2 linked regions of the Homo sapiens genome follow. The protein of the gene in region 2 purifies or fractionates together with the protein of the main gene of each other region. This does not show direct contact. Each region holds a gene or a part of one and is shown on either strand. Other genes may lie near its edges.

Region 1 (4,560 bases), on a different chromosome or scaffold from region 2:
ATGTGCACAGGTCATAAACACCTGTCAGTCTCAAAGTGCTTTGGCCAGTAGCCCATAACATTGTCCCAACTTTTCAAAAAGTTGTCTGGAATGAAATTTTATTTTCTTGACTAGCTGATTAAATTTGTACCCCTACAAACTATATGAACAATTAGGTGTCTTTAGTAACTTTCAGGAATAATTGTTACAAAGTTTGAAAGCATCATGCTATTGACATACACTGTTTACAGAAGAGTTTTGAAATTTTGGATAATTAGATGTATTTGCAATTCTGAAATTAATTTGACAACATGTAATGGCTTTCAGATATTTTATATTAGTAAGTGTGCCTTTTTGAATGTATGAAATATTTCAAAAGACTGAGTAGAACAAATTAAGAGTATATTTTTAGAATCTAAAATTTGTTCTAAATGGAGCTGATATTCAGGAGAATGTGGCCAGTCACTGGTGTCTTTGATGTCCTGCTCCACCACAGCCCAGCAAGGTCACTGCTGATACTGGGCACACAGAGGAGGTCAAGGCCTGGCTCTCAGCCTTAAAACGATGTGGGAAGTTTCCTTTTATGCACAAGACGTAATTAACAAAAGAGCATGTGTTTGTATTTCCCAAGCAGAATGTGCTCAACTCCCTTCTCACCTCTCCCATATCTGACTCCTAATTATTTCTCCTGGATGGGTGCCCTCCCACCTCCCTAACCATTACCCCACAGGGATGCTGCACCCCTAGGTTGCTGGAGCTCCCATTCTTGCGATGCTGGAGGGAGGCCATTAATTGTTGGTCATCCTGTCAATATGGCTCATGTTCAGGTTCTGTGCTGTGTGTTTTCTTCTTTCTGGAAGAGCTAAAGACAGACTAACAAATATGTCACTTGCTTCTCCTCTAGAGGCTGAAAACTCCACCTACTCTCACCTCAAAAATGTCTATAAAATATTGGTTATCATCTGCTCTCTGCCCCAAACTTATAGGCAAATCAGTTTTTGGCCTTAAAGAACTAGAAGGAAAAGAAACACACAAGTAACAGAGAAAGGAGTAGGAAAAGAATCTTTAAGGAAAAACATTCAATTACTTCAAGATAAAAATTTATTATGTTTGCTTTCTGGACCATGGATATATCTAGCTAGCTGAAGTTGCCAAGCAGGAGGGGAGGGATTTAACCAGAGGCTGTGTGTCCAGTCACCAGCATAGAGACATCCTCTGCATCACCATCCACACACAGGGCCTTCTGCTAGATGTCGTGCAACACCCTCTATGCTAATATTCATCTGAAAATGGATAATCAGGATGGTCCATAAGACTGAAAAGAGAAAGGATAGTACATAAATATGGATGAAATGACTCTATTAAAAAGCTGGTAGCAAAGTGAATTTATATGAAGCTGCCATTAGTGTGAATGTTAAGAAGTTTATTTTCGGACTATTTGTAGAATGTCTTTCATGAACATGAGTTTATAATGTGTTTTTTTTTTTTTTCAAAATAAGAAAATTTTCAACTTATATTCCCTTGCCTGGAATTTATCACACAAACTACACAGGGTCAATTGTTCAAACATAGTCCTCCATATCTGTCAACAGAGCAAAGAGATATTCTGACATTTTCTATTTCAAATTCTCAATGAAAGCAGGAACTCATCTTGCATTGTTTTGAATAGAAATAAGCCAGCTATATGTTCATCATTAACAAAAAGTTTTGAGGGTTAAATGTTATTGGTAGCAATCACATATCCTTTTAAAAGAATGTATTCATTACTGACTAGCTGCTTACCATATGGAAAATATTTTCTTTGATTCAGACATGTAAATTGTCATATGTGATATGGGGTTCCATATTCAAAACCCTACAATATGCTAAGGGCAATCTTTAGGTGAAAATCACACAAAATAGAATGAATAAATGATTCATTAATATTGAATAATTGATTGGTGAGAATTACTGATGTTTGCCACTCTTCCTTTCCTTTTCATGATTTTCTATTTTACTATTTTCCTCTAAACTAATAAAGATATCTAAAAATGTTTGAGTTCTTATGATGTGCTGCTGTGCTTATCCTTTTTAATACATTATCTCATGTCTATTACTTGTTAACATCTCCACTGCAGGCAGTGACATAACTTGTTTTGCCCTCATCACATGAGTGCCTTTCTGTGAATCCTAGAACCTTGGAGCATATAGAAAAGAGTAAGATCTTTTGTCAGCTATATATTATCCCCAAAGATGGGACTTTCCAACTCTTCCCTTGATTTTTTTGTTTTTTAATGACTGAGTCTTGCTCTGTTGCCCAGGCTGGAGTGCAGTGGCATAATTTTGGCTCACTGAAACCTCTGCTTCCCGGGTTCAAGGGATTCTCCTGTCTCAGCCTCCTTAGTAGCTGGATTTGCAGGTGTGTGCCACCATGCATGGCTAATTTTTTTATTTTTAGTAGAGACAGGGTTTTGCCATTTTGGCCAGGCTGGTCTGAAACTTCTGACTTCAAGTGATTCACCTGCCTTGGCCTCCCAGAATGATGGGATTACAGGCATGAGCCACTGAGCCTGGCTCTTCCCTTGATTTTTAATCTATCTTCTCTAAAGCTTCTTTATACTCTGCATTGAGATTTCCATATTGCAAAAATTAAAGCCAAGAGTTCTATTGCCTACTAAGGGCAAACTTCCTGGAGGCAAAATGCAGTGTTTGGGTCATGAGCAAATGTCTAAAGAGAAGGAAGAAAGAAATTTGAAACAATTAAAGATACTGAATTGACATGATCTAGTGAGCAATTCCATATGGAAGAGAAGAGAATTTCTGGCATGGACACCAGTGTTGTTGGAAATGTTTTTTAGCTGATAAGAAACTGAGTGGATTTGGAAGAAAAAGCTATAAGTACAGATTTGGAAAAACATTAATCAAGCCATATGGGCAATATCTACTGTCCACTAGGCCACGGCAGAAATGCCAGGCCTACATGAAAGTTGCAGATTTAGCAATAATATTGGCTGCTCTGGAAATTTCCATGGAGTCAGGAGAGCAGAGGCACAGGTTGACCGATGCTGACCCTGGGTCCACTCACCCTGTCAGAGAACAGAGCTCTGGAGTGAATCCAGAAGGAGAGTTCCAGAGAGTTCCTGTCTCACCTCTCACTTGCACTGGCCTCTGTCTCCCTGGTATTGAGGTCACTTTCAACACCCATCTGACATTCCTCCTCTAAAAATAAACTGGGAAACCCATTTTCCAAAGTTACTTACAAATCCATGACAACATATCGATAATTTCTGTTTAGACCATCTAGAACTTTCATATCCTCTGATGTCAACTGGAATTCAAAAACCTACCAAAGAAGTAGAAAATGTTTATTCTTAGATTGCATAATTGTCAACTTGGAATAGCCAAGTATATCACACAGTAGGGTGTAGAGGCAATATGTAAAATACTTGATAAGTTTCCAAAAGTTATGAAAGACCATCTCTAAACTCTCAAGTGATTAAAGAATATCAGATAAAATATAAATCTATTCCTAGATATTACATATTGAAACTGCACAAAACTGAAGAAAAGATCTCAACAGAAACTAAAGATGGAACGAAGTTGACCTTATGTGCACATGATTGGTTCATGTACTTAGATTCAGAAGAATCTAGAGAAATTTTGAAATGTATAATTTAGACAGTTTGATGGTGATACAATTTGGATATTTGTCCCCTCCTAATCTCATGTTAAAAAGTAATTCCCCAATGATGGAAGTGGGTCCTGGTGGGAGGTGTTTGTGCCCTGGGGGCATCCCTCATGAATGGCTGGGTGCCCTCCCCATGGTAATGAGTGTTCACTGCATTAGTTCACATGAAATCTGGTTTAAAAAGGAGCCTGACATTTTCTTTTTTTCCCTCTTCATCTCTTGTTATTTGATATGTTTCCTCCTCTGTCACCTTCTACCACGAGTAAATGCTTCCTGAGCCCTCACCAAAACTAAATGCTGGTGCCATGATTTTTGTACAGTCTGCAAAATGGTAAGTCAAAACAACTTTCGGCATATTTTATCTGGCCTCGGGTACTTTATAGCAACGCACAATGGACTAATATGGAAAATTGTTACCAGGAGTGGGACATTGCTAAAAATGTCTGAAAATGTGGTAGTGGCTTTAGAACTGGATAATTAGCACAGTTTGGAAGTGTCAGGAGGGTTCAGAAGAAAATGGGAAGATAAGGGGTAGTCTGGAACTTGTTAGGCATTGGTTAAGTGATTCTGACCAAAATGCTGATTAAAAATATGGCCAACTAAGTTTAGGCTAATGAGGTCTAAGATCAAAATGAGAAACTTATTAAAAACTGGAACAAAGATCACCCTTGTTATACCTTACGAAAGAACTTGACTGCATCGTGTCCATTCCAGGACTTTGTGGAAGTCTGAACTTAGTGATGACTAAGGGTATCTGGTGGAAGAAATTTCTAAGCAGGAAAACATTCAAGAGATAGTGTGACTGCTTCTAACAGCCTATGATCAGGTATGGGTGCAAAGGAATGACCTAATGTTGGAACTTAAAGCTTCCTGAAGCCTCTCCAGAATGAGATGCTGGTGCTATGCTTTTTGTA
Region 2 (5,253 bases):
TAAAGGAGATAATCGTATTTGAAAGTGATCATAATGATGGTGTGGTGGCATTTTAAAAGCATGTCTGCAAATGATATTTCTTACATAAAGAGGTGGGGTTTAATTCCTCTCCTCTTGAATATGGATTAGTCTTAATAATCCACTTGTAATGAAGAGAATACAGTGAAAGTGATGTTGAGTAACTTCTGGGGCTAGGTTATAAAAGGAGATTTTACTTGGCTCTGTCTCTTGGACACCTGTTTTGGGACCCAGCCTCCACGCTGTGAGGAAGCTCAAGCTACATGGAGATGTTACACATAGATGTTCTACCTGTCAGTCTCAGGAGAGGTCCTCATCGACAGCCAGCATCAACTGCCAGGCATGTAGGTAAGGAAGCCTTCAAGATGATTTTAACCTCAGCCACTCTGACATGTAAGTGCATGAGGGATCTCAAGCAATAATATTCTGTCAACTCCCATAACTGTGAGAGGCAATAATAAAATGAATACTGTTATTTTAAATCACTAAATGTTGTAAAGACATTTAGGTAATAGACATCCACAATAATGATGAACCAAGGAATCTAAGATGGGTAAAGAGAGAAATAAGGACATAAGAGTAATATTTGACAGTGCAAAGATAATTGAATGAAATGGTGGTTTGAGTCAGTTGAAGAAGTGCTAGTGTAGAAGCTCCAATGTGAGTGAGCTAAGAAATTAAGAGATAAGTGGATGAAGAAATGGAGATTTCAGAGATGGTACAGCAATTTAGGATAAAATGGTTAAGAGTATGACCATAGAAGGACATGACTGAGGAACGGTGAAAGCAAAGATAACTGGAAGAAAGGTCAAGGATGTGAACGGAACATCCCTGTGAATACTGCGGGCACAAGAACAATGACAGGAGTAGAGAAAAAGGAAGATGGTGAGCCAGATGCTAATGCTACCAACAAAACATAGAGATTGGTACATAATGAAGACAGTGAGTGCTAAATCTGATGTTATGAACTACAAAGAAGCTGAGACTTTAGAAAAAGGAGGGAAGATACATAGTTTGGAAGTGGAAATGGGGAGCCAAGGAAGACACCTAACCTATCTCTAGATCTGAGGTAAACTGAGGAGTGAAACAAGACAGTCTCCCTAGGATTTCATATCTGAGTAGGATGTGGAAAGTCACCATGGTCCAATGACCCTGCTACAACAACTAGAAAAAAACAGACACATTACAAAAATCACATTTAAAAAAGATATTGGCGAGCCATGGAATTCCAGGGGAAGGAAATTTTTCTGAAGTGAGCTGACAATGCACAGCTGCTTTTTTTCCCTGGGAACGTGTGCCAGCTCTGGGTAGGAAAGAGGACAGGGCTGGGCCCAGGCAGAGAAAGTCTACAAATGGGAAGAGAAACCAATAGGCTTATGGTGGTGGCACGGGGGTAACATGACAGGTTAGAAACTTGAGGTGCCCCAAGTGTGGCCACTGTCTCCCATAAGGCAGTGAGTTCTGGGAGTGTTCACACAGGAGGCTGAGGAGCTAGAACATCAACTCCTACAAGGCAGAGTGAGTCTTTCATAATCTCAGGGAAGGAAGAGGAAGCCTGCCTCAAACATACAGCCAGCATAACCTTCAATGTACTTGCCAGATTTTAAAGTTGAGGGCCCACGGCCACCACGCCATCTGGGAAGTAAGGAGCACCTCTGCCCAGCCGCCCCACCATCTGGGAAGTGAGGAGCGCCTCTGCCCGGCCGCCCCACCGTCTGGGAAGTGAGGAGCACCTCTGCCCGGCCGCCCCACCACCTGGGAAGTGAGGAGCACCTCTGCCTGGCTGTCGCCCCCTCTGGGAAGTGAGGAGGCCCTCTGCCCTGCCGCCCCACTGTCTGGGAAGTAAGGCGCACCTCTCCCTGGCTGCCCCACAGTCTGGGAAGAGAGGAGCGCCTCTGCCCAGCCGCTGCACCTTCTGGGAAGTGAGGAGCGCCTCTACCTGGTTGCCGCCCCATCTGGAAAGTGAGGAGCGCCTTTGCCCGGCCGTTGTGCAACCCTCGAAGTGTGAAGTGGCAGCCTTGTGTGTGATTTTTATGCCCTCCCCAAGTTTGCATTTTTGATATTAAAGTTTACTTTTAAAAGTTTTAAATTGGGGAATATATATACATATATAAAAGTTGAGGGCCTAGAAGGGAAACTAAAGAGCTAAGCTTAAATACCTCCGAAGAGCAGAACCAAATCTCTCACAATCTTTCAGTCTGAGGAGACAGAGACTGGCTAGCTTCTCAATCAAAAGCCCAGAAGAGCTATGCCTGAGGAATAGGGATGAACCAGATGTAAACCGAACCCAAATAAATCCACAGTCCAAGCTCAACACAGATCAGTCCCTTCCTGGACTGAGGTCATGAGCTCTGTACCCTATACAGAGGAAAGGACGAACCTTTGCTGGCGAAAGAGTATATCATCTGGAACTTCTATTGTTCTTTTCTCACACAATGTCCAATAAAAATAAGAAATTACTAGGTATGGGCTGGGCGCGGTGGCCCACGCCTGTAATCCCAGCACTTTGGGAGGCCGAGGCAGGTGGATCATGAGGTCAGGAGATCGAGACCATCCTGGCTAACACGGTGAAACCCCGTCTCTACTAAAAATACAAAAAAATTAGCCGGGCATGGTGGCAGGCGCCTGTAGTCCCAGCTACTCGGGAGGCTGAGGCAGGAGAATGGCGTGAAGCCAGGAGGCGGAGCTTGCAGTGAGCCGAGATCCCGCCACTGCACTCCAGCCTGGGCGACAGTGCAAGACTCTGTCTCAAAAAAAAAAAAAAAAAAGAAATTACTAGGTATGTATGAAGGCAGGAAAATGTCTTGAATTATCAACAGAAGAAAATAAGCAATAGAAGCAGACCCACAAATGATCTGGATATTCAAGTTAACAAACAATGATTTAATTTTATGTATTTATTTTATTTATTTATTTTTTTAGAGACACAGTCTCACTCCATCACCCAGGCTGGAGTGTAATGGTGTGATCTCAGCTCACTGCAACCTCTGCCTCCTGGGTTCAAGCGATTCTCATGCCTCAGCCTCCCAAATAGCTGGAATTACAGGCGTGCACCACACCTGGCAAATTTTTGTATTTTTAGTAGAGACAGGGTTTCAGCTGGTCTCGAACTCCTGGCCTCAAGTGATCCACCCACCTCGGCCTCCCAAAGTGCTAGAATTACAGGCATAAGCAACAAACAATAATTTTAAAATAACAACCATCAACATGTGTGTTGATCCATTTTGCACGGCTATAAAGAAATACCTGAGGCCAGGTAATTTATAAAGAAAAGAGTTGTATGCGGCTCAGGGTTCTGCAGGGTGTACAAGAAGCATGGTGCCAGCATCTGCTCGGCTTCTGGCGAAGGCCTCAGGAAGCTTTTACTCACTGCAGAAGGCAAAGGGAGCCAGCATGTAACATGGGAAGAGAAGGAGTAAGAGAAACAGCTAGAGGGAGGCTCTTCTAAACAACCAGCTCTTGGGTGAACTAATAGAGGGAGAACTCACTAATTATCACAGGGGAGGGCACAAAGCCATTCTTGAGGGATCTGCCCACATGACTCAAATACCTCCCACTGGGCCCCACCTCCAACACTGGGGATCAAATTTTAACAGATTTGGAGAGAACAAATAAAGAAAACAGAAAAAGGCAAACTGAATGAAAAGATGCATAATTCTAATAATCAGAATTTATTTAAACATCAAATTGTCATTCTAGAACTGAAAAACATGTCTAAAATTAAGATTTCATTTGATGTATTTAAGAGTAGACTGGACACAGCATAAAACAAAATTAGTAAACTTGAAAACCATCAATGAAAAAGATCCAAACTTGAGCTCAAAAAGAAGAAAATGGGGAAAAAGCAGAAGAGATCAAAAGAGGCATGTAGAACAAGGTAAAGAAAAAGAAAAAAAAAGCTAACATATGTACGATTGGAGTTCCAAAAGGAAAAGAGAGAACTGAATAGAAGTACTATTTGAAAAGAACCAAGAATTTTCTAAAACGGATGAAAAATATCTATCAACAGATTCAGTAAGCCCAGGGGACCAAGCAGGATTGTTTAAAATGTTTTTTAATTTTTTATTTTTTTAGAGATAGGGTCTTGCTCCATCACCCAGGCTGGAGTTCAGTGGTGCAATCATAGTTCACTGCAGCCTCAAATTCCTGGGCTCAAGTGATCCTCTCCTCTCAGCCTCATGAGTAGCAGGGACTACAGGTGTGAGCCACTAAGACAAGTTAGCTTTTTTTTTTTTTTTTTTTTAATTTTTGTACACACAGGGTCTCACTATGTTACCGAGGCTGGTCTTGAACTCCTGGCAAGCAATCCACCTGCCTTGGGCTCTCACAGTGCTGGGATTACAGGCATGAACCACCAAGCCAGGCCTGATTTTTAAAAAAATCAGTCTCTATTCAAGAGATTTGCAGGAAAATGATATTGTAGGTAGAAAATCAGGTTTTATTTAGGACAGGTAGATGAAATTCAGAAGAGGTTAAATATACAGGGAAAACTTTAATGAAAGGTTATTTATGTATTCCAAGGCTTGCAGAAGATGGGTTTTAGAAAAGTATAAAACCTGCCAGACATGGTGGGTCATGCTGTGGTGGGTCATGCCTGTAATCTCAGCACTTTGGGAGGCTGAGGCGGGTGGATCACCTGAGGTTAGGAGTTCGAGACCGGCCTGACCAACATGGTGAAACCCTGTCTCGACTAAAAATACAAAAATTAGCTGAGCATGGTGGCAGGTGCCTGTAGTCCCAGCTATTTGGGAGGCTGAGGCAGGAGAATCGCTTGAACCCAGGAGGCGGATGTTGCAGTGAGCTGAGATGGCACCACTGCACTCTAGACTGGGCGACAGAGCTAGACTCTGTCTCAAAAAAAAAAAAAGTATAAAACCCATCTGGGAAATTGAGTCAGATAAATAAATGTACAGACAGGATATGAGGCAGAATGGAATTCATCTTGATATTCTCTTAGAAGAAATGGGTAATGAGTTTAAGGTGGGTGTGTGGGGCCCAGAGGATTGCTCCTTTGCACTTCCTGCTAGTGTGCTAGCAGAGGTGAGTGAAGGACTCCTCAGGAGAACATGATCTTAGACAATGGAGAATGCATATAAGGGCCTCCTCTATGGGTGCAGAACAATGCAGTAAGCTGGTAAGGAAGGAATGCTTTCACCCAGAGGGGGAACTGGGGACTGCCTCATTGCAGCTTTGTGATGTTATAGTAACTGGCGGCCTAGATGAGAAGAGGCCATC

The links.
Region 1: the proteins of FBXL13 (region 2) and AKR1C4 purify together in Homo sapiens (affinity purification with mass spectrometry, with the first as the bait; one large-scale study listed by BioGRID). This does not show direct contact.

What each region holds. Positions count from the first base shown.
Region 1 is NC_000010.11:5,215,452-5,220,011, reverse strand, and holds the end of AKR1C4 (aldo-keto reductase family 1 member C4), read right to left. Parts: intron 3,302-4,560; coding exon 3,219-3,301; intron 1,295-3,218; coding exon 1,252-1,294; 3' UTR 1,063-1,251; downstream 1-1,062. UniProt on the Homo sapiens protein: Cytosolic aldo-keto reductase that catalyzes the NADH and NADPH-dependent reduction of ketosteroids to hydroxysteroids. Liver specific enzyme that acts as an NAD(P)(H)-dependent 3-, 17- and 20-ketosteroid reductase on the steroid nucleus and side chain.
Region 2 is NC_000007.14:103,067,311-103,072,563, forward strand, and holds part of FBXL13 (F-box and leucine-rich repeat protein 13), read right to left. Parts: intron 1-5,253. UniProt on the Homo sapiens protein: Substrate-recognition component of the SCF (SKP1-CUL1-F-box protein)-type E3 ubiquitin ligase complex.